Linked DNA regions of Homo sapiens. The protein of the gene in region 5 purifies or fractionates together with the protein of the main gene of each other region. This does not show direct contact. Each region holds a gene or a part of one and is shown on either strand. Other genes may lie near its edges. The genes, in order: KSR1, KRABD3, C15orf39, ERF, PRMT2, SETD1A and SETD5.

Region 1 (3,500 bases), on a different chromosome or scaffold from region 5:
TCAGGAGGCTGAGGCATGAGAATCGCTTGAACCCAGGATGTGGAGGTTGCAGTGAGCTGAGATTGCACCACTGCACTCCAGCCTGGGTGACAGAGCAAGACTCTGTCTCTAAATCAGTCAATCAGTCAATTGTTCTTTATTTGTAGGGGACTGGAAGCTGCTCTGGAAGAATTCCTGTACACTATTGTAGACTTTATAAACACTAAACACTTAGGCTATACTAAATTTATTTTAAAATATTCTCCTCAATAATAAATTAACCTTAGCTTACAACTTTTTTACATTATAATCTTTAAACATTTTTTTTAACTTGGACTCTTTTGTAATAACACTTAGCCCAAAACAAACATATTGTATAGCTGTACAAAAACTTTTTTTTTGAATTTTTATAAGCTTTTTTCTATTTTTAAAATCCTTATTTTTTCTTTTACTTTTTAAACTTTTTTGTTAACTAAGACACACACGCTAGCCTAGGCCTGTGCAGCCTCAGGATCATCAATATCACTGTCTTCCACCTCCACATCTTGTCCCACCGGAAGGTCTTCGGGGCAGTGACATACATGGAGCTGGCATCTCCTGTGATAACAGTGCCACCTTCTGGATACCTCCTGAAGGACCTGCCTGAGGCTAGTTTACAGATAACTTTTTTTTTTTTTTTTTTTTTTTGGTAAGTAGAACAAGTATACTCTAAAATCATGATTAAAAGACTGGATGTGGTGGCTCACGCCTGTAATCCCAGCACTTTGGGAGGCCAAGGTGGGCGGATCACCTGAGATCAGGAGTTCAAGACCAGCCTGGCCAACATAGTGAAACCCCGTCTCTACTAAAAATACAAAAATTAGCCAGGCATGGTGGTGGGCTGGGTGCCTGTAATCCCAGCTATTTGGGAGGCTGAGGCAGGAGAATCGCTTGAACCCAGGAAGCAGAGGTTGCAGTGAGCTGAGATTGTGCCATTGCATTCCAGCCTGGACAACAGAGCAGGACTCTGTCTCAAAAAATAAATATATAAATAAAAAAAATTTTAAAAATGATTAAAAGTACAATATAGTAAATACATAAACCAGTAATACAGTTGTTTATTCTCATTATCAAGTAAGATGCTACCGTGCATAATCGTGCGTGCCATCCTTTTATACAGCTTGTAGTTCCGTGGATTATTTCCCGCCAGCGTCACCACAGACACGTGAGGAATGCATGGTGCTGCCCTGTTACCACAGCTACCACATCACTAGGCAAGAGGAATTTTCCCACTCCATTATAATTAGGGCCACCGTCATGTATGTGGTCCCTTGTTGACCAAAACAACATTCTGTGGCACATGACTGTATTTACACCCCCATTTGACAGTGAGACAGCTGGAGAGGTTAGCCAACTCCCTAAGGTCCCAGAGCCTAGTTATGTGGCAGAATTGAGGTTGGAACATGCTGTCAGCTTCCAGAACCCCAGTGTATCCTTTTCAGTCACCTATGAGAGAGAGAGAAAAAAATGTGGGTAGGGAGTGGTAAGGTTGAGACACTCTGGAGGTACAGGTGGGGCTCAGGGGGAGGAGGCCATTCTTCCGTACATAACACTGTTAAACTTTTCAGAATCACTGTTTCTCTCCCATTGTATTTTGCCCTTCTGGGCTCACATGCATTTCACAGAGTGCTGGTGACCGGAGACGGGGTCTTGGAATGCCCAATCCTCCAGTGCAAGCCCCTTTAGTCCTGCAGACTCCTGCCAGGGCCCATTTTCTCCCAGCTCTTTTCCTCCTTCCTGCATGGTTTGGCCTGTCCTTGCCAGGTCCATCTGGGGTAGGGCTGTCCCAGCCCAGTAACAAGTCCCTGCCTCCCAAGCCGGTACCTGCAATTCCGCTCCTCCCTCCTGCGTTGGCCGTTCTGTGTGTGTGACTCACCTCCTCTTCTGTTTAAAGCTGCCTACTTCATTCATCATAGACAGCAGTTTATCTTTCCAGGTGAGTCCTTTGCATGGTTCCATTAACTGCCCTTTGCTGTGACCCCTTCTGTCCTGCCCACCTGGGCAGGGCGCCCTCTCTCTGGGTACCTTTGGAGATACTTGAGTCTCCCTCCACCTGTTCTGAGAGCTGACTGCCCATAGAGGATGGGAAGAGGGCAGGGCAAGTGCCCTGGTGGTAGGCCTCTTACGTGAGAAGTTCTTGCTGGGAGGGACCCTGGAATCCATCCCATCCAGCCTCTTGGCACAGAGACTGCAGGCAACCTTTTCAAGGTCACACTGCTAGGAGATGGCAGAAGGACTAGAATCTGGGTTTATAGAATGGGGAGAGGACTTTTTGCTAATGCCTTATGAGCATATGTCACCGTATCCTCCCTTGCACAATGATGGGAGGATATCTTATGCACAATGTCTTAGAGAAGTAGAAACCCATTTGGGAAGGTCTGCGGGCTTCTCTTAGTGGGCTTCACCCTTCTGTGCCTTACCACACAGTGCCATCTGCTGGCCATTGCTGGAAATGCCTCCTTATTGCAGAAAGTTTAAAGGAAAACGCTTTCAGTAAGTCAATACATTGAGTCCCTTCTGCAAAAGTTGTTTTCTACACTTACTATGTACCAACCTTTTCATTCCTGCCCCTAAAGTGCTTGAGATCAGTGCTTTTTACTGTAACTGAAGGTGATGAGCATAATGGTGTTTAAAACAAAGACTGTAGCTGTTTTTTTTTTGGATTGAACAGGACTGTCTTGAAGTCACAGTATTTTGGTTACTCCAGGCTTTTCTATTCCCTAAGCCAGCTCCATTAGGGGGTTGACTTGGAGCATCTGTGAGTCCTTAGAGGACCATCCATATGGCGTTGCTCAGGTGTGTGCAGGGCAGCAGTCAGGGCCCTGAGAACCCGCCTCCCGGAGGCTCCCTCTGAACAGCTGAGCAGCCTCTGCAGTTTCACACCGGTTTTTTGTTGTGGTTCCCCTGGTTACTAGCTCTAGGATGCACGCAGGGAATTACCCCAAAACATTGGGAAGATATGGCTCTTCTCCCAGAAGGGTCCATTTTCCCCCGAAGATATGTCACAGGGAGGGCAAGGAAATACATTTTTATTAAAGCAAACGTGGACACATTTTGGAGCAGAATGCATGATACACTCTTAACTTTTAAGCAAAAGCATGAGGATTCAGAGAGGCATTTTGCCTTCCCATCTGGGGTTTGGGGAGAAACCACACCCCAACTCTTACTACTTCCCTCATGCTTTAGGTGTGTGTTTGCCTCCTTTGGAACATTTGAGCAGTGTGGGATGGGTGGAAATGCCAGGCCCCTGCTGGTAGTCTGCAGACACACTGTGTCCGGGGGAGGCCTTACCGGTAGAGGCTTCTAAGGTTCTGATCCCCCAGAAATTGTGCACAGGATGTTGGGCACATGTGTGCATTTCCCTGATAAGAAGGCCCACGGCCTCTATCAGATTCTCCAAGTCTGTGAGGTCCCAGAGATGTTGACAGCCTGTGGTTCAGATGACCTTCAAAGGCAGAAGAAAGCCCTAGAAGAAGGTCGAG
Region 2 (3,500 bases), on a different chromosome or scaffold from region 5:
GACAGGGGGCTTCTGCAGTTTGCAGAGATTGAGCTACAGTCCCCCTCATCTGTGAATGTTTGATCTTCACAGGAAGCCCACCAGGAAGCTCCCCACTGCAGGGTCTGGAGAATTGTCTCAAGGAGATACCTGTGCCTGTGCTGCGGCCTGCCTGGCCCTGCTCCTCAGCAGCAGACAGGGGACCGAGGAGAGCAGAGCCCAGGAACTGGACAGCAGACAAGGAAGGTAATAGTGGCTGCCGGGGCCCTGGGTGTAGACAGGGCTGCTCTGAGGATGCCCTAGGCGCTGCACCTGTGGGCTCAGATCTGCTCCTGAGCCAACATGGTGCTCTGGAAACAGACCTGGGCAGAGCCTTGTTGGAGGCCAGAAAGCCAGATAGTCTGCAGCACACACGTGTAGACCTGCTGGCACCTTAGTGCCACTGTCTGCGGTTCCACCATCCCAGCTGGAGCTGGCTCCTTGTGGCTGGGTGTCCTTGTCCCGGCCGTGCCAGCCCCACGAGCCTTGGTGTCTGGGCACCAGTCTCCAAGCCCAGGGGTCCACGCAGCTGGGTCTGGGAATAGAGATGTTCTGGAGGGTTCAGGCGCTCCCTGGAACATGACAGATGGGTGTTTCCCACACCTGATGCTGGTGTGCCTGAGAGCCCAGCAATGGCAGAAACTGTTCCCTGTCCCTTCTTCTGTGGCAGCACGAGGCCCCGTGGGGCTGACAGGCCTTCTGATTTCTCATTAAAACAGGACTGAGGGCTGAGGCCTGCGAGTCAGCCCGTCTCGGGCAGGGTAGGGGAGAAGCGCCCACCCGGAGCCTCCATCTGGTCAGCCCACAGGTGTTCACCTCCAGCTGCGTCCCCGCCTGCCACCAGCGGGGGTTCAAAGACCCTGGGGCCACCAGGCCAGGAGTGTGGAGGTGGCTCCCAGAGGGTGAGCTGGCACCTGCCCTCGGTACTGACAGCCCCACTTCAGTTAAAGTGTTTGACAAGGAAATAGACTTCCCTCTCTGTCCCTCTGTTTCTTCCCCATCTCTCATCCTTTCCCCAGAGGACAGAAGCTGGTGCCAAACAGAAACTGAGGTTCGCTAAACAAGAAGATAAAGTGTCACAAAGTGCTGACAAGGAGCGGGGTCGGGAAGATCATTGTTTGTGTCCATCCATTGGGTTTCTCCAGTGGAGAAGCTTCTTGAGGGGGCTCCCGCCGTCCACTGCTGCTGCTTGGTTTAACTTCCAGCAGAATTCCTTCCTAGATCTGCTGCAGGGCCTGCTGGGATGCCTTTGCTGAATAAATGCGGTTTTGCTGACCCTCCCATCAGACGAGGATGGGCCCTAACTGAGCCCCACCCTTGGGCTGCTGGCCCCTGTGAGATACTGGGGTGCAGGGATGGCACCTGCCTGGTGGGAGAAGCCGCCTGGCCTGTGAGACCTAGGCCTGGCTAGAACCTGACTGCTAATGGCTTCCAAGGACTGGAGACTTCCAGAAAGTTCCCCAGCAGACTTTCCAAAGCTGCTGGGGTCCTGGCCAGGCTCTGGCTTCACTTTTGTCCTCTTTCTCTGGCAAGAGAGGCAGCCATTTAGGGTCCACTAGAACGCATGCTGATCGTGGGCTGAGCTGAAAAGGGGACCGGTTCTGTGTGCCCAGACACTAAGGCAGAGACCTGGCTCTCTTCAGGCTGATGACAGAGCACTCTCTGGTCCCCTGCCCAGGGTCTGCCCCCAAGCCCTCCCCGCTGCACTGCCTGGAGAGCGCCCTGAGGGGGATCTTGCCTGTAAGGCCCTTGCGCTTCGCCTGCGTGGGAGGCCCCAGCCCCAGCCCCAGCCCCGGCTCCAGCTCGAGCTTCAGCGGCTCTGAAGGAGAAGACCCGAGGCCAGAGCCTGATCTCTGGAAGCCGCTCCCCCAGGGTGAGCCTGTGCGGAGAGGGAGGATAGCGGGATGTGTGCCAGGGCGCCAGTCACCACTCTGATGCCAGCTTTGTTTGTGACGTTAGAGAGGGACCGCCTTCCCAGCTGTAAGCCTCCTGTCCCTCTGTCCCCATGTCCTGGTGGGACCCCTGCTGGCAGCAGTGGCGGCAGCCCTGGTGAAGACCCCAGGAGAACAGAGCCCAGGTACTGCAGCGGCCTCGGTGCAGGTGAGCCTGGGGTCTCCTGAGGGGGCGCCCATGCGTTCCCCAGAGGACCAGGAGTCCAGACTGGATCCTTTGAGTCCTGCCTGTCGCTTTGCCTGGCTCTTGCCAGGGAGTCCTGCACATTGGCCGTGCTTTAGTTCCCTGTAAGGTGAGCTGTGTCCGAGAAGGAGGGCGGGGCTGCTGGGGGTGCTGGTGAGCAGCTGCAGGGAGGTCTGAGCCACTCACTTGATGCCACGTACACGGTGTTTGCGCTTGCTAATATACACGTGTGCATGTAGACAGATGTGGATGTATTTATACAATAATAGCGTATGCTTTTAAAACTTGGCAATCAATAACAAAAGTCTCAAAAGTGAGATTTCCCCAGCTGGGGGTACTTCTTGGAGAGTGTCCCATTAGGAAAGCTAGAATGCTGCCTATTGCCCCAGGCCACCTTGCTTCTCAATCTCACTGTGACCCACTGTTTGCTCCTAGCAGAAAAAGCAGATGGGACAGGAGACAGGTCCCAGTTGCCTGGGAGAAAAGAGAGTTTAGAGAGTACCTGCTGTCCTGGCCCCCTCAGGAGTGCTGGAGGACGAGGACGAGGAGGGAGAAGCAGTGGTAGAAGGAGGGAGAAGCAGGGGAGAAGGAGGAAGAGGCCAGAAATGGTCAGGGGAGGGAGCTCTCCCCAACTCCTGCAGCTGGCTCCATTTACAGGCATTGGCCCTGGTCTGTGTAGACCCAGGCTGCACCACATTCTTCACTCCGCAGTGGGCCTAGTGGAAAATGGCAGAGTGGGCTGGGTGTGGACCACAGGATGCCCCAGCACGCCCTTGGAAGTCTCACTGGGGCAGGACCCGCAGATGAGAGTCCTTTTTCCCAGCTGCCTCCCCAGCCGCCTCCTCCTGCCGGAGCCCCCTGCATACAGGGCAGGAACACCACACACACACGCACCGCGGCGGGCCCTGCCACCAGAATTAGGCTCCCTCATGGGCCAAGTTTCCGTCTTCTATCTCATTTAATCATTGTTTAAAAGTTGAGAGTTTGATATTGTTTTAGGGTATGTCAGAATGGCTCTGGCCAAACGATCGTCTCCCTGCCCCAAGGTCTCTGTGCTCTTTCTATAGGTACAGCTCAGGATCCCTGCCCGGTTTCTCAGCTGGAGAAAAGGCCCAGGGTTAGTGAAGCATCCAGAGGCCTGGAGCTTGGACATGGAAGACCCAGAGTTGCAGGTGAACTGGTGGCTTCCCCCATTCCCTCTGCACGGGCCAGGACCCAGAGCCCCAGCTTGGGGAAAACAGCCTTCCAGGGTCAGTGTTTGAGTGATGGGTAGGAAGTCTCACCTGTAATGCACTTCAGGTTGCATATTTCCTTTCAGTGTTTTATCACAGAAGCAGTTGGGATTT
Region 3 (3,500 bases), on a different chromosome or scaffold from region 5:
TTCTGGCTCCGTCGCCCACTCTCCTCCAGAGAAGCTTCGCGAGTGGCTAGAGACGGCTGGGCCCTGGGGCCAGGCTGCGTGGCAGGACTGCCAGGGTGTGCAGGGGCTGCTGGCCAAGCTGCTGTCTCAGCTGCAGCGCTTCGATCGCACCCACCGGTGCCCCTTCCCCCATGTGGTGCGAGCTGGCGCCATCTTCGTGCCCATTCACCTGGTGAAGGAGCGGCTCTTCCCTCGGCTGCCACCCGCTTCTGTGGACCATGTGCTGCAGGAGCATCGTGTGGAGCTGCGGCCCACCACGCTGTCGGAGGAGCGGGCACTGCGGGAGCTCGCCCTGCCAGGCTGCACCTCACGCATGCTGAAGTTACTGGCGCTGCGCCAGCTGCCGGACATTTACCCCGACCTTCTCGGCCTGCAGTGGCGCGACTGTGTACGCCGCCAGCTGGGTGAGCATGGGGCAGCCCCAGTGGCCACCGGAGCTGTGTGAGCAAGTGACAGGTGTGTGTGCTGTGTGAGTGCGTCACAGCTGGGGCTGAGTGATTCCAAGGACTCCTGCCCGGGTAGGGGGCTTTAGGATGAGCTCTAGGTACCCCCACCCCTTGACCCTCCAGACAATCAGTGAGCACCTTCATAGCCTCTTTTGTAGGCTTCTGAACATGCCAGCTGCTCTGTCCCCATGGAAACTCCTCGGCCTCCCCTGGTGCTGCACCTTCTTGGATTCCCTCCTCCTCTGCCTGTGCCTTCTCCATCTTTGGTGCAGTGTTTCCGGCACTCTGGTTAGGCCCTGTTTTCTAGCTGAGATAATTTCCCTGATCTCCAGCCTAGCATCCCCTTTGTGAGCTCTAGCCCTAAATAACCCACTGCATGCTGGGCCTCAGCCCCTGGGTCTCTCTCCCACACTGAACTCATCCCAAATCACACTCCCGAGCCTTCCCCTCAGCTCACTTCCCACAACCAGTTCTTTTCCATGTCAGTGAAGGGCACCCCCTTTCACAAAGCTCCTCATGCTCTAGACCTGGTGAGGGCCACAGCTGCCTTTTTGAACGTGTAGTTTTGCAGTCCTCCCCGGCCCTTACATACACAGAAGTGTGCGCATAAGTCGCATTGTTTTGTGGTTTGCTTTTCCTCTACTAAATGATGTGCCTGCTGTTCTCCAGCTTGTTTTCTTTTAATGTCCTGGAGGACCACACAACTGCCGAAGTGTTGTGTGGCGTGTATGATCACACTTCTTCAGCTAGGGATCTGGTGATGGGACCAAGTGGATTCTGTTATTGCCCCTCCTGCGTCAGTACACCTGGCATTGCAGCCTGAGGCCCCCTCTAGTTTTTCTCTCCCTGCTGCCCCCAATTCCACCCTCTCCCATTTCCACTGCCCAGCCTCTTCCCTGTAGAAACTGTTCCTAGTTCCATCCCCGTAGTGGCAGCCTTGCCCCGGGCCCTTACCTGGTTGGGATGGGGAAGGGCCTGTGGCAGTGAGGTGCAGATGAGCTTAGGGGCTGGCTGACCAGAATCCCTGATCCCTGAGTACTTACAAAATTGGAGCAGATGCCTTAATGGGATGCAAAGGAAATCCAGACTCAGGCGATCTGTTACTGAGTGAGGGTCCCACATCACTCAGGGCTGGGCTGCCCAGCTCAGTCCTCTCCCCATACAGTTGGGCTGTCTGGGGCCCAGAGAGGGTCAGGTCTGTTTCTCCTGGGCTGCCTGATCAGCAGTGGAGTCTGGGCACTCCACACAGTCCGAGGTGCTCTGACTGGAGCTTGCAACAATCGGGGGGCCTGGGAAGCAAGTGATTGAGACCAGGCTTCTGGCTTCTGGCTGAATTTTGTTGCCCCTGTCCTCACTCCCTCCCACCTTGGGGGCCGTTTTTCTCTGTGTGCCCCTAGACAGTTATCCCTGCCTTCCTTTGTTGTGGGTGGGTTCCTGTGCTCCCCCAGCATGGCTCTTAGGACAGTCCCTACCTGGGCTCGGCCTCGGGCTTGGGCTTGGTCTCTGGGGCTGGTATGGCAGAAACATGATGGCTGTCTTATATATGGCAGGGTCCTCTGTTCCCATGCCTCAGTTTTCCATCTGAGCAATGGGTATTGGACCAGGCCAATGGTTCCTGACCTGCTGAGCCCCTTTGCTCTCATCCTTGTACCCAAACAGCCTCTCCTGAGTGGTGCCCTCATCAGATAGAGTTCTGGTGTCACCTGGGGAGAAGCACATCTTTTTTGCTTGGATGGTCTGGCCAGTGGGCATGTGTGGGGAAGAGTTGTGATGCCAGCCTGACTTGGGGCAGAGCAGAAGCACTGTTTGGATGGCTTTGGAAGCCAGGAGGTGGGACCTGAGGGTATGGGGTCTGCAGGCTGACTATGTGTTCGTTTTCCAGGTGACTTTGACACTGAGGCTGGAGCTGTGTCCTCCTCAGAGCCCACTGTGGCCAGAGGTGAGCCAGAGAGCCTAGCCCTGGCTCAGAAGTCACCGGCCCCCAAGGTCAGGAAGCCAGGCAGGAAGCCACCAACCCCTGGCCCGGAGAAAGCAGAGGCAGCTGCTGGGGAAGAGTCCTGTGGTGCCTCCCCTACCCCTGCTACCAGTGCCAGCCCACCTGGCCCCACACTGAAGGCCCGCTTCCGCAGTCTGCTGGAGACCGCCTGGCTCAATGGCCTGGCTCTGCCCACCTGGGGCCACAAGTCCTCAAGACCAGACCAGCCCTCACCCTGCCCACAGCTGCTGGACAGCCAGAGCCATCACCTGTAGCACTGGTTGCCAGTGCTGTGTGTATAGCAGTCACTCTCCACCCTTCCCTTCTGCCTGCCCAGCTGCCCCGGGGCCACGAGTGGATGCTGGGGCTGTGGCTGCTCCCCTGGAGGGGTTCCATCTCTGACCCTGTGGCCCATTCAGGGTGGGCTGAAGAGCCCCTGAGCTTTTAACGTGAGGGTCTTTATTGGATAGGACTACTCCCTATTTCTTGCCTAGAGAACACACATGGGCTTTGGAGCCCGACAGACCTGGGCTTGAATCCCGGCTCGTGTTCTTGCTGCAGGACCTGGGCAAGAAACTTCACCTCTGCTGAGCCCTCATTCCCCATGTGTAAAATGGGACAACGCAACCTACCTCACAGGGTTGTTGTGGGGATGCTGCCTGATACATACCCTGTCACCATTTGGTCTCTGCTTCCTCTCTGGGACAGGGCCTAGAATTGGAGGCAGAGAACCTTCCTATAGAAAGTCTTCGTGTGTCCTAGGACTTGGCTATCGTAGAGTGGTACCTTAGGCAGTGGATGTGACTCACACTTTCAGGAGTCACCCCCCAGCATTTGGGGTTGGGTTGGCCCTACTCCAGCCTGGAGCTCCCTGAGGGAGCCTGCACTCCCTGCTCCCAATCCCCGCTACTGGTGCAGGGATGCAGCCTGGAGCTGGCGTCCTTGTTCTGGGCCTGCTGCTGCCGCCACCCCAGGAGGCCCCAGGCCTGTCCTGAATTGACATCAGTGCTTCCCTGAACTGCCTCCCCCACCCCTGGCAT
Region 4 (2,530 bases), on a different chromosome or scaffold from region 5:
GGAAGATGAAGATGAAGAGCAGGCTGGTGGTGAGCGGGGGTCCTCGGTGGGGGACAGCACCTCGGAGGGCGTTGAGGGAGGGAAGCGGAAGTGGCTACCACCCGACGGCACTGGCGGGGCACTCTGGGGCACTGCACCCCCTGGCAGAAGGGAGACAGTGTCAAGGCCCCTGGCCTAGCCTGAAGGGGCATGTAGACCCTCTCCACACCAACCATCCCTGGTACTCACCAGCCAACCCCACATCAATGAATGGGTAATTGACCAGCACCAGTTTGTTGAAATTGAACTTGTAGGTGAACCGTTTCCCCTTGGTCTTGTGCAGAATGCGCTTGTTATAGTAATAGCTGTGGGTACAGAAATGCCATTGGGAAGGTCAGGTACGTGGGACCCAGGTCTAGACTCCACACCTTAACACGCACTTAGGTGTGGTTCCCAAAGGCCAACTGAGGAACGTAGGCCACAAAAGACAAATCAAGTGCCCAGAGGGTGGGTACCAGCTCTCTCCTCACATCTAAGGCAGGACTAGAGGATCCACTGGTGACTGTAATCTCTCCTCAGGATACGTCTGTGTTACCAAGGGGCTCAGGGAAGGGCTGGGAGTGGCCCAAGGTCACACAGCTAGGATTTGGCAAAGCCAGGGGTCAGACCCAATGCTTGTTCCCACAGGCAAGGGGCTGTGCAACCCCGGGGGGGCACTCCACATGTGCTCAGGGGTCCCCAGCCCGTCCTCACCGCAGGGCCCGGCTCAGCTTGTCGTAATTCATCTGGGGCTTGCACTTGCGAACGCCCCACAGCCGGGCCACCTCATCAGGGTCTTTGATGACGAATTCCCCGTAGTCCCCCTGCCAGGCAATGACGCCCTGGTACTCCTCCTTCCGCAGCAGCTCCAGGATAAAGTGCCACAGCTGGATCTGCCTTGAGCCAGGGGACGACTCTGGCTTGTAGGCCCAATCCGGGAAGGCAAACCCTGGGGACGGGAGGCAGGGAGTGGCCTGGGGTCAGGCTGCCAAGTCCAGGGCTCTGGGTCCCATCCCAGGGTCCACCTCTGCCCTGCCTTCAACATGGGGAAATCTGTCTCACCTCAGCCAAGTCAAGATCTGATTTAAGAGAAGACAGTGCGTGTCTGTCTGTCTGCATGTGAGGGGCTAGACAGGAGCTGGGGGGGAGGGGAAGCTGGAGCCCGCTCCAGCGACACCGGGAGAAACAGGAAACCGTCGGCGGTGGGTCCCGGGGCCAGTGCCAGGGGGCCAGGCACCAAGCCAGGCTGGCGGGCAGGGCTGCCAGTGGGGGAGGGGCAGGAAGGGGCACACGTGGCCAGCCGGGTTGGGGTACAGCCCCCCAGCTTACCCCCACTCCCATTCAGAGCCAGTTGCACCACCCCAGCTCCTCGGATGTCCTCCTTAGAAACATGCACTGTCTCCTCCGAAGACCCAACAGAGCCCCTACTCCCAACCCCAAGACCTGAGAGGAAGATTTTTTTTTTTTTTCTTAAAAGGACCAGGAGGGGTGGGGTGACTCGGTTGCCGATGAGGTCAGCGCTTGCACACACAGAGGCTTCTGTCTTCCCTGGAGAGTGAAACCCAGACTGTCTGAGAGGCCCCCCAAGCCCTGGACCCTCTGAGCTACACTGCCCTCCCCAGACCCAGGCATCCAGGCCCCACCTGGCTGGAGGGCCCAGCCCAGGCCTGGAGCTTGAGCAGGCACCCTGGAGCTGTCACCCTCTTCCCACTTCTGCCTTCTCATCTTCAGCTCCTTCCCTGCCCACCTGCCTGCCCACCCCCAGCATTAACCTTGGGTAGAGGTTGGCGGTGGGCTGGCTGGTCTCTGGAGGGGGTGGGCAGCCTGGGGTGGGGGGTGGGGGGTGGGGGGACTGCGGTTGTTGTCATTTCCCAACAACAGGGGCCATCAATAATTCAGCACCAGGCAGCCGGTAATGGAGGGGTGGGAGGAGGGAAAGGGGAGGAAGGGAAGGAGTGGGGAGGCAGAGCAGGGTCCCTGGTGCCACTAGAGAGAGAAGGCCAAGGTGGCCAGCTAAAGATGGGCGGCTCCCAAATCCAGTCAGGCTGCAGGGGTCAATCCGCCTCCCTTGGCCCCAGCTCAAACAGGTACCAACAAGGCCTCCAGGCAACACATCCACCCTCAAAGACTCCACCCAAGTCTGGAATCCAACAAGGGATCCTTCCCCTTGGGAATCCAGGGAATCAGTAGTTCCTGCTCCCACAGGGACCACCCCCTCCAAATCCAGAGCTCACTGTAGGCCCCCAACTCCTGCCCAGACTGGGCTGCAGTACCACATAGCCCCCGGAGTCCCTGCCCCATTCAGATATATCCCAGCCTTCCACCAGCCCCTCAGGGTGCCAGGGATATGACCTCCAGCTGTTCACAGACCAGCACCAACAGCCCCTGTTCCATTTAAAAGTGACAGCCTTTGACAACCCCTTCCAGAGACCCCAGAGCACCATCGCTCTCTTGGGAATCTAGGTGTTCAACCCATTATCCTCACCCTTCTAGAGAATCCAGATCACAAGGT
Region 5 (3,500 bases):
GGCAGAATAAGTCAAAGAGCATTAAAATTTTTTTGTTTTTCCAGAAGCAGCAAAGTTCTGAAGGAGACGCAAGTAAAGATACCACAGGTGTCCTAGATTGTCAACAGACCATTTAATCATTTTTGTTAACAAAGCAGGTGACAATTGAGCCCTAATTTGCGTTATCATTAGTTGTTACAGGATCTTGCTTGTTCTCCTGAGGCCACGCCACGATTTCCGAGAAGCAGGTTGCACACTCAGCAGTCTCCCACTAGCCAGTGGCACTGCAGGTGCAGGGGCTGCCTCCTGGACCTTTCAGGACGCTTTGCAAGGTCACTGAGGATCTCCATTGCACATTTGGTAGAATTAAAAGACTGCCAGACTCAGTCTTACTGTTGTTAGTGTATTCGTGCTGTCAATATGTGATGAGGACATATTATATTCCGTTATTCTCTTTAGCTCAAGGAAGAATAAAGAATTTGGACCAAAATTACAACCACATTATGACGAATTTTCTAAGCAAAAGAAACAAAGTAACTGCTGAGGTTAACAAAGATGTAATAATTCTCTTCACACAGCCTTGTACTGTTTTATTGACTGTATTATCACAAATCCTGAGCTTAACGAAAGTCTTTATAAGTCAGCTCATGAAAACAGGCACGTGGCCAGTAAGAATTTAATTTCATACCAATAACACTTCAGACTTCGGATGTATTTAAGGCTGTTTGCACATATTTATAGAATGTGTGGTGTAGATGATGGGACAGCTCCCCCTCAGCAAGACTCTGGCCTAAATGTATTTGCTTTATTTACACAACAAGAGGATAAGCGTAAACACGGGCACTTTCAGTTTGTGGCACTGAAGGACGATCTACACAGGGCACCCTGCAGAGGCCACAACCAAGGCCGCCTGGCTTCCCAGTGGGACAGGCCTAAGGGAGGACTTCTGGCCCCTTTGCTTGATGTTCATGTTTTATGCCTTGATATTTCTTTTTGGTTGCATTCCCTGGAGCTCATGTAGATCATTTTACTTTTCAGAGGTGCTAGTTCTGGTGCCCACACGCACACACACAAAACCATCAACTCTTCTGGATTCCTTGGTTTTAAAGCTTGCCTCATACAAAGTACAGAGACATCTTTTTCAGGAAACATTGCCACCACATGCTTGAAGGACCGCTTATGGCTACACTTAGACATCTCCAACCAAGGTCTCTTCACCTCCTTCTACAACAATGCACTTTGTCTGCACTGGGACAAAAAATGACAGCCTTTTTTCTTTTCTTGTTTTTTTTTTTTTTTGGCGTGGAGCATTTCCGAACTTTCACGTCATAAAAAATGCAGCATAGTTAATCAGCAGCTTGCACTTCTGAGGGCACATTCACCTCGGGGGAGGAGGAAGGAGGAGGAGCTGGTGGGTGCTGAGACTGCAGTGTCCTCCTTCCCAGCAGCTGGACCCAGAGACCAGGCACCAAATTTTTTTGATGAAATTATCCTAAGGAAATAATCAAATTTGTACAGAAATTTATGTTAAAAAATGTTCATGGCAGCACCGTTTAAAATGGGGAGAAAATTGGAAACAACAGAATTGTAGCAATACATATGATCATTAAAAATTATGTTTTAGAAAGATTTTTAACAGTCTTTGGAAAAAGTTGGTGACATGTTGCTAGTTTTTAAAAAAAGTACAGAGTATGTACAGTATGATTCCAATTTTGTGTTTAAAAATTAGACATAGTGGTAACCTAGCTTCAGTTCCAGATAAGATGGAGAAGGCATACTCCTTTCATGTCTCCCACTGAATGCAGCTATAAATCCTGGAGAGTAGACAGGGAGAAACTATTTGAGGACTCTGGAACAAAGACATAGTAGCAATCGACTGGTGAAGAAGACAAGAATTTGAAGTACGGTCAAGTATCTGTGGGCTCCACATCTGTAGATACAACCTACATGTATTGAAAATATCAGAAAATAAAAATAACAATACAACAATAAACATCAATACAAATAACACACCAATACAGTATAGCAGCTACTTACATAACACTGACATTGTATTAGGTAGAAGTAATCTAGAGATGATTTAAAGTCTGTCGGAGGATGTGTGTAGCCTGTATGTAAAAACCACGTTATTTTATATGGGGGACTTTAGCATCCAAGGATTTGAATATCCACGGGGGTCCTGGAACAAGTTCCCCATAGACACCAAGAAACAACTGTATTCCTGAAACAGTCTTGAGTTATCATTTTCTTTCTTCTCCCTCTATGTATGTACATAGAGTGTACATACATAGAGTGAGAAGCAAAGAAGGTCCATGAAATGGACCAATTCTTTTGAAAACTGCAAATTACCACAGTTCATCTAACATGAAATAGATAACCTGAATGGTCCAATAACTAGTAAAGATATTGAATTAATAGTTTAAAAACCTTCTGAAAGGTAAATCTCTACCCTAAATGATTTCACTGGTGAATTCTATCAACACATTTAATGAAGAAAAAACTCCAGTTCTAAACAACTTTCAGAAAAGAAGAGGGAACACTTCCTCACTCATTATATGAGGTAAGCATTGCCCTAATACCAAAACCAATGTTAACACAAAATATGAAACCTACAGACCAATAACCCTCATGAACATAAATGTAAAAATCCTCAAGAAAACATTAGCAAATTTAAACCAGCAGGATATAAAAGGAATAATAATACACCATAACAAAAAAAGAAACTATCCTTGGAATGCAAGGCTGGTTCAATATTTGAAAATCAATCAGTGTAATCTACCATATTAACAGTCTGAAGAAGAAAAATCATGATTATATCAATACAGAAAAAAATTGACAAAATTCAACATCAGTTCATGATAAAATTCTCAGCAAACTAGAAAGGGAAGGAAATTTAACATGACATAGGACATCTACAAAAAAACCTACAGAAAATCCTAAGGAGTCTATGAGAAAATTTCCTAAAACTAGTAAGTGAGTTTAACAAGATCACAGAGTGCAAGGTCATCATACAGAAGTCATTTTTATATCTTAGCAATGTACAATTAGAAATTAAAGAATATCACAGTAGCTTCAAAAATATGAAAGGCTTAGAAATCTAACAAAATGTGATCTGGATGCTGAAAATGATGAGATGATAATGAAAGAAACCCCAGAAAACCTAAATAAATGGAGAGATAAGAAGGCTCAACCTAGTAAAGACGTATGTTCTTTTTAAATTGATCTGTAGACTTAATAAAATTCCAATTAGAATCCAAGCAGGATTTGTTCTTATAGATAAGCTCATTATGAAATGTATATGGAATGTAAAGGAACTAGTGCTATGGTTTGTCCCCACCAAATCTCATGTTGAAATTTGATCCTCAGTGTGGTGGTGTTGGGAGGTGGGGCCTAGTGGGAGGTGTTTGGGTCATGGGTGTGGATCCCTCATGAATAGATGAATGCCCTTCCTCGTGGGTAGATAAGTGAGTTCTAGCTCTTTCAGGTCCCAACAAGAGCTGGTTGTGAAAAAGAGCCTGGCA
Region 6 (3,500 bases), on a different chromosome or scaffold from region 5:
ATCCCCGGATTGTAGTTGCAGGTCTTCCTCTGGTCTGCTGATTTACATTTTCTGTATTTTGGGTTTTTCCATCCATGAAATTCAGTGTCTGGAATCACAGAATTCCGAGTTAAACGAGGCATCTCCCCAAGTTTCCCACCTGATGCTAATGCCCTCCTACCACCTTCCTCCTAGTTTGCCTGAGTTTGAGCCCTTGCTTGATAGCTACCATGGCCTGGAAACTTGCCCATTGAGTCAGATCTGCTTCCCTGGAGACCCACTGGCCTTCATACTCTTTTCTTGGGCCAGGCATAACAAGTCAGCTCCCTCTTCCACCCGACCAGAAAATGATACAAGATCAAATGGACAGGACATATTTAAAACTGTGTGGGCTGGGCGCAGTGGCTCCTGACTGTAATCCCAGCACTTCCAGAGGCTGAGGCAGGAGGATCACCTGAGGTCAGAAGTTCAAGACCAGCCAGGCCAACATGGCACAACCCTGTCTCTACTAAAAATACAAAACAGCCAGGCATGGTGGTGTTCACCTGTAATCCCAGCTACTTGGGAGGCAGAGGCACGAGAATCACTTGAACCCAGGAGGTGGAGGTTACAGTGAGCCAAGATTATGCCACTGCACTTCAGCCTGGGTGATAGCACGAGACTGTGTCTCAAAAAAAAAAAAAATACATATATATATATATATGTACACACACATATGTATATACACACAAATATATACACACACACATATATATATACACACACATATGCGTATCTGTATATATTAAGGCCAGGCAGGGTGGAGCTCACCTGTAATCCCAGCACTTTGGGAGGCCGAGGCGGGTGGATCACAAGGTCAAGAGATCGAGACCATCCTGGCCAACATGGTGAAACCCCGTCTCTACTAACAATAGAAAAATTAGCCAGGCGTGGTGGCGGGTGCCTATAGTCCCAGCTACTTGGGAGACTGAGGCAGGAGAATTGCTTGAACCCGGGAGGCAGAGGCTGCTGTGAGCTGAGATTGTGCCACTGCACTCCAGCCTGGCGACAAAGCGAGACTCCGTCTCAAAAAAAAAAATATATATATATATGCCAGGCACGATGGCTCACGCCTATAATCCCAGCACTCCAGGAGGCTGAGGCAGGAGGATCACTTGAACCCAGGAGTTCAATACCAGCCTGAGCAACATAGGTAGACCCTGTCTCTACAAAAATTTTTAAAAATTAGCTGGGTATGATTGCATGCCCCTGTATAGTCCCAGTTACTCAGGAGACCGAGGCAGGAGGATCGCTTGAGCCCAGCAGGTTGAGGCTGCAGTGAGCTGTGGTCATGCCACTGCACCCCAGCCTGAGTGACAGAGCAAGACCCCGTCCCAAAAACAAAAACAAATACAAAACTATGAAACATGAGGTAACTGAGGTGTTTGAGTTCCTCTGGTGAGCTTCCAAATTCTCATCTGTGAAATGAAGACCATCAGGAAGATTGGTAATAGTATATGTAAAGCCCCTTGCACAGGGCAAGTATCTTGTGGTTGATGGTAAATTTCCCCAACTACCACTCTGCTGGCCTAGACCCTGAACAAGAGAAGGAGGCTGGAGAGCCAGGACGTCCGGGGACCAAGCCCCCGAAGCGGGACGAAGAGCGAGGCAAGACCCAGGGCAAGCACCGCAAGTCCTTTGCTCTGGACAGCGAAGGGGAGGAGGCATCCCAGGAGTCCTCCTCGGAGAAGGTGAGGGCCCGGGCGCCGGCTCCTGGCCGAAGCCTACTTCCCATAGCCAGCATCTTTGTGGTTGGAGCCCAGGCAGCTGTGCCTGGTGTAGGACCAGTTGTCCCCTTCCTGTTAGTCCTCATTTGTCTTTTTTCTTAAGGATGAGGAGGATGACGAGGAAGATGAGGAAGATGAAGATCGAGAGGAAGCTGTGGATACCACAAAGAAGGAGACAGAGGTGTCGGATGGTGAGCACAAGACAGTGAAATCGACTTTGGGCTCGGAGGAGGGGTTCGGCTGCCTGGCTAGCCCTTTTCTGAGCCCACATGACCTTCCTGCTGGGCTTGTGGGTCACCTTTGCCTTCTGCAAGGGCATCTGTTTGGGCCACATTCTTAGGAACCCTTGGCCCCTTGACAGCAATAAGCTCAGTGCTCAAAATGCTCCCTCCTGCTCCCTCTTCTGCTGAGACATAGCTGTCCAAAAGGACAGCCTGGCAGAACGCTTTTTTTGTTTTGTTTTTTGTTGTTGTTGTTGTTGTTGTTTTGAGAGAGTTTCGCTCTTGTCGCCCAGGCTGGAGTGCAATGGCGCAATCTCGGCTCACTGCAACCTCCGCCTCCTGAGTTCAAGAGATTCTCCTGCCTCAGCCTCCGTTGTAGCTGGGATTACAGGCACCCACCACCACCCCCAGCTAATTTTTTGTATTTTTAGTAGAGACAGGGTTTCACTATGTTGGCCAGACTGGTCTTGAACTCCTGAGCTCAGGCGATCCACCCACCTCAGCCTCTGGAAGTGCTGGGATTACAGGCGTGAGCCACCACACCCAGATTTTTTTTTTTTTTTTTTGAGACAGAGTCTCGCTTTGTCACCCAGGCTGGAGTGCAGTGATGTGATCTTGGCTCACTGCAACCTCCGCCTCCCTGGTTCCAGCGATTTTCCTGCCTCAGCCTCCCAAAGCGCTGGGATTACAGGTGTGAGCCACCACACCTGGCTAATTTTTGTATTTTTAGCAGAGATGGGGTTTTACCATGTTGGCCAGGCTGGTCCCAAACTCATGACCTCAAGTGATCCACCCACCTCGGCCTCCCAAAGTGCTAGGCTTTCACCTGTGAGCCACTGCACGCAGCCTCTTGCAGCAGTCTTGACTGATTTCCCTGTCTCTCTTTCTGTCCTTCTCCCTCTGTTCCAGTCCATTTTCCAAACTGCTTATAGAATCTCTTTCCTAAAATGCACTCCTGACCCTGTGACTTCCCTCCATAAGGTCCTTCCTGGCAACTTGTTCTCCACAGGGTGTCCCCCCAGGCCAACACCATGGGCCGTTTATCTCCTGGCCCTGCTCTGTTCAGCTCCATCTCGCCCTCCTCCAGTCCGCTCCCCAGCTGCCACCACCTTCTAGTCTAACTTATCCAATTCTGTTCCTCAAAAACTGTGAAATTCTTCAGTTTTTTCGAGTCCTTCCCGTACATGAGCAGTCTCAGAATATAGAGCCTGTCGTGTTTTTTAACCTTTTCAGCCCAGAATCCTTTTTCACCCAATCCTTCGTCCAGACTGGGTCCTGAGACCCACTTTAGGAAGGTTTGAGTGCCAGAGCAGCCTGCTTCCCAGTCTCCAAGCCTCCACTTCCTCTTGCTTCCGACATCCCTGTGCAGTCCCCATGTCTGTGTGGTGGACTCCTTGTCCTTGAGTTCAGCTTGTCCCCTGGGATGCTTTCCTTTTCGGGCCTCTTCAGACAGAGTCTGGGGCTTCCTTTGCCATCCTCCCCGCATGCTGATGTTTATCTCACAGTGAAAATGGTTTGCTTATGCAGCTCCTTG
Region 7 (3,500 bases), on a different chromosome or scaffold from region 5:
CCTCAACCCAAGCAACAAATGTGCTCTTGGAAAACTGTTCAAACCAATTATTTCTAAAAATTAAAGTCTTTTAAAATATATTAAGCATTTTGAAAAACCTTGTCATATATTCCTTCATAAAAGAGAAATCCTATCACAATTCAAATAATTGCCAGCTAATTTGCCTATAAATGAAATTCTTTATTTTTAAAAAAAGAACTGACGCAAAACATTTATTTTAAAAGTAACTAAAAATGTTGTTCAGAACACCGATCCTTTAACATTTTAATGAAAACTTCAATAGGGACCCAAATTTCAAAATATTTCATTATGATTTTGGTTTAAAGGACCAGATAACCAACAGATCTTTTCCAACTCTATGATTCATACTAAGTCTTAATAAACTGGATGCAACTATCCCACTTGTATGCGAGCTGAACACAAATGTATCAAAAGAGGTTGCCTAAACTAAAAGGTGGGGGAGGGAGTAATCTCCAGGAAATATCAGGTTCTCCAGGAACTAAGGATGAGGCTGAAATTAAAAAGTAGCCTTTCTTCAGTTAGCATTTTACATATGGCAACCCAACACATGAAAGCTGTAATGTGCTACCTATCTTAATGAAATAAAATTGTAGACAACTACGAGCAACTATTTCATAAAGGGAAACAAATTATTCTACATGTTCAGGTCCAATCCCAACCCAAATAAACACATTGTATTACAATGTGTTTTTATTCAGATAGAGTATTCTTTTCCATTTCTTAATGAGAATTCAGCTCTAGAACGGGTCTCCTCGGGAGGTGACTTGCACCTAGGAGGGTGCAGAGTGTGGGATTTATTTTATTTTAACCTATACAGAGCTTTATTTATTTTTTTATTTTTCCTTGGCGAGAATGGATCCCTACAAGATATTCTGAAATGTATCAAATTTGGGGTTAATAGTATGTGGTTGGCAAAAATTCAATGCTTGAGTGGGAACTAAAAATGATTTCTTTAATTGTATGCCAAACTGAATAATCTCCCAGGGAAAAGAACCTCCTCCTCTTGCCTTTCCTACCTCCTGCCCCTCCCCCACCAACATTGCCTCCCTGCTGTGCAAAGAGCCCTTTGTCCTGCCCCGCACTTATCTAGCTGTTTGGCCATATTGACAGGCCTACTGGAGGCATAATAAGGGAGTCAGTCTGACATAAGCAGCTGGCAATTTGAAACAAAAATCTTCCTTTTCTACTTAGACCAAATCCTGCTGCAGAGGTCTCTGGCTCCTCCCATGCTTCCATCTATTTCTCAAACAGAGCAGCAAGAAATTCAGCATTTTCCCCTCCATTAGGTAGCACAAATCAAAAACTTGATTCCCCAGACAGAAATCTATTTTGTATACATTCCTATAGCTACCGCTTTTTGTGATTCATAACATAGGCCAAAAGTATACATGTAACTAACATGGCTAAGGCAATGCTTCTCATTACTTCATACTGCCATGAAAGCTGTGGGAATCCTTATACCACAACGAACCCATAAGAACACAGAAGAGAAAGCAGCAGCCCAACCAAAGCAACAGACATGAGCATCAGGCAAAACTGGCCTGATGTAAAAACTTAAGTGTTTTAAAAATACTAAGACATTACTCCAAGAAGCAGAAAATTCCTTTCCCTGTCTTCATATCAAACATACTTAATGTGACCTTACATTAAGTAAGGTATTCCCTCAGGTACTCAGCAAACAAAATCAATATGATGGTATAAACGAATGAGGCACGATGCGATTACAAATTCCTTGCTCAGTGAGGGCACATATAAAGCAGACTGAGCTTACCTTCATTGTTTATTTTATCCCATAGTTCCCTTCGCTAAGTATTAAAGACAGAATGCATTTTGTCCCAGGGTAGGGGAATTCTCTCCAATGTAATGCTTTCTAACAGCACCTCCCCCCAAAGTTACTGGGTATCTTTTACGCAATTCATAATTAAAGATACAATAAAACAGTTTTCCTAAGACTTATTTAACAAAATGTATATAGACAAGTGAAGGAAACTATATTCTCTCCACCTTTCATGAACTTCCCAGAATCCCACCCACAAGATAAATCAATCATTTTGCCACATATTTTGGAATTTTTGGCAGTAAGGAATGGTACCAATCCCTGCCCATCACGGGTACACTACATTACTTTCTAAAGAGTGCCTTTGAAAGAATACTTTAAATTACAAATGACTACCAGTTATATCACTAAATATACGATGCACATTTTGCAAAGTTTGATGCCTCAAACAAAATATACTGGTCAAGAAGTTTCAGTTTTCAACACTTGAAATACAATTTTTATAAATAAAATTCACTGCTAGACCTTCTGACTTCAAATTAAACTGATGAATCACCAGAGTTCAGCCAAAAATTATTTTTAAAATTTTATTTTATTCATGATCCAGTTCCCCTCTGATAAAATGTATCCAATAGTCATTGACTGCTGTTAACTATGGCCTAATTTTTCATAAGTTATTTCAACATGGAGAGGATAAAGCAAAAGTAATTATCTGCAAATCTGTACTTTGCACTTTATTATTTCCCCATTCAAAGGTAAAAATGAAATAGTCATTCTCCCCAGAAAAGCCAGAATAATTTCAGAAAGTCAGTTCCTGGACACAAAACAGTATCAAAAGATATAAAAAAGTTTTCAAGGGTATAACTTAAGTAAATCCTTCTATGAAAAGGGCCTGTATGATCCTCTAAAAAATGATAATATCAAGAGCACAAAAGGTTCCAAACAACAGGAAATTCGAGTGTAAAAGCAATTATTTTATATAGCAACTTAAGCCACAGAGTAAAAAACTACAAACATTTTTATCTTAAACCCTAAGTATGTCAAACAGCCAGTATACATGAAATCATATTTATCTGCTATTGCATCTTATCTATGTGATAGTAATAAGAATTGGAACCTCCTAAAATAGTATCCATTAAAGGTTCTGTTTCATTGGTCTGCTTTTATTACTGGGAAAACAATGTGAGCCACATTTGTGAATGACAAAACTCATTTCCATTCTTTTTGGTTCTCTGCCACAAATGCCAGAGTGATACTACAAATTATAGATGTTTGTGAGATTTAAGTACATTTACACGAAAATGAACAAATCAAAATTCTGAGAGAAAAAAGTATAGGATACACGAGTCTTGGGGAAGAAAAACAGCACACAGGAATATGTCCAGTATTGCATATAATTGGTGGTGGTGGTTCTCCTTCAAGTTTTTCCACGCTCAGACTGTTTTGCTTAATCAGAGATCATCCTAATGTTCAGGAGTTGTGGGGGAGGGGAGATCACCTAAGGGGCTCAGAGGCCATCTTCTCAGTATCCTGAACTAGACTTATTCGATTTCTGCATATTTCTTCTGGTCTGTCCTACATTTCAGATGGATTATGGCCAAAGACATATATTTGTGATGTCAGAAGGCTATATCCAACATGTATATAATGAATCAATCTTATAAGTCAAACTCCAAAGAAAATATCTAATCTGGAGAAGTTT

Evidence for each region.
Region 1: the proteins of PRMT2 (region 5) and KSR1 purify together in Homo sapiens (affinity purification with mass spectrometry; 3 studies listed by BioGRID and IntAct, with this or other methods). This does not show direct contact.
Region 2: the proteins of PRMT2 (region 5) and KRABD3 purify together in Homo sapiens (affinity purification with mass spectrometry; 3 studies listed by BioGRID and IntAct, with this or other methods). This does not show direct contact.
Region 3: the proteins of PRMT2 (region 5) and C15orf39 purify together in Homo sapiens (affinity purification with mass spectrometry; 3 studies listed by BioGRID and IntAct, with this or other methods). This does not show direct contact.
Region 4: the proteins of PRMT2 (region 5) and ERF purify together in Homo sapiens (affinity purification with mass spectrometry; 3 studies listed by BioGRID and IntAct, with this or other methods). This does not show direct contact.
Region 6: the proteins of PRMT2 (region 5) and SETD1A purify together in Homo sapiens (affinity purification with mass spectrometry; 3 studies listed by BioGRID and IntAct, with this or other methods). This does not show direct contact.
Region 7: the proteins of PRMT2 (region 5) and SETD5 purify together in Homo sapiens (affinity purification with mass spectrometry; 3 studies listed by BioGRID and IntAct, with this or other methods). This does not show direct contact.

What each region holds. Positions count from the first base shown.
Region 1 is NC_000017.11:27,599,448-27,602,947, forward strand, and holds part of KSR1 (kinase suppressor of Ras 1), read left to right. Parts: intron 1-1,138; coding exon of another isoform or gene 1,139-1,296; exon of another isoform or gene 1,297-1,776; intron 1,777-1,782; coding exon of another isoform or gene 1,783-1,889; exon of another isoform or gene 1,890-1,906; intron 1,907-1,912; coding exon 1,913-1,954; intron 1,955-2,445; coding exon of another isoform or gene 2,446-2,511; intron 2,512-3,500.
Region 2 is NC_000007.14:149,728,451-149,731,950, forward strand, and holds part of KRABD3 (protein KRBA1), read left to right. Parts: intron 1-72; coding exon 73-225; intron 226-737; coding exon 738-920; intron 921-1,037; coding exon of another isoform or gene 1,038-1,078; exon of another isoform or gene 1,079-1,301; intron 1,302-1,696; coding exon 1,697-1,891; intron 1,892-1,977; coding exon 1,978-2,118; exon of another isoform or gene 2,119-2,263; intron 2,264-3,221; coding exon 3,222-3,326; intron 3,327-3,500.
Region 3 is NC_000015.10:75,208,382-75,211,881, forward strand, and holds part of C15orf39 (uncharacterized protein C15orf39), read left to right. Parts: coding exon 1-443; intron 444-2,367; coding exon 2,368-2,735; 3' UTR 2,736-3,500.
Region 4 is NC_000019.10:42,249,599-42,252,128, forward strand, and holds part of ERF (ETS domain-containing transcription factor ERF), read right to left. Parts: intron 1,843-2,530; exon of another isoform or gene 1,791-1,842; intron 1,567-1,790; exon of another isoform or gene 1,348-1,566; intron 968-1,347; coding exon 733-967; intron 345-732; coding exon 229-344; intron 141-228; coding exon 1-140. UniProt on the Homo sapiens protein: Potent transcriptional repressor that binds to the H1 element of the Ets2 promoter. May regulate other genes involved in cellular proliferation.
Region 5 is NC_000021.9:46,652,674-46,656,173, forward strand, and holds part of PRMT2 (protein arginine N-methyltransferase 2), read left to right. Parts: exon of another isoform or gene 1-171; coding exon of another isoform or gene 172-381; exon of another isoform or gene 382-2,424; intron 2,425-3,500. UniProt on the Homo sapiens protein: Arginine methyltransferase that methylates the guanidino nitrogens of arginyl residues in proteins such as STAT3, FBL, histone H4. Acts as a coactivator (with NCOA2) of the androgen receptor (AR)-mediated transactivation.
Region 6 is NC_000016.10:30,967,754-30,971,253, forward strand, and holds part of SETD1A (histone-lysine N-methyltransferase SETD1A), read left to right. Parts: intron 1-1,551; coding exon 1,552-1,709; intron 1,710-1,848; coding exon 1,849-1,936; intron 1,937-3,500. UniProt on the Homo sapiens protein: Histone methyltransferase that catalyzes methyl group transfer from S-adenosyl-L-methionine to the epsilon-amino group of 'Lys-4' of histone H3 (H3K4) via a non-processive mechanism.
Region 7 is NC_000003.12:9,400,615-9,404,114, reverse strand, and holds part of SETD5 (histone-lysine N-methyltransferase SETD5), read right to left. Parts: intron 1-3,500.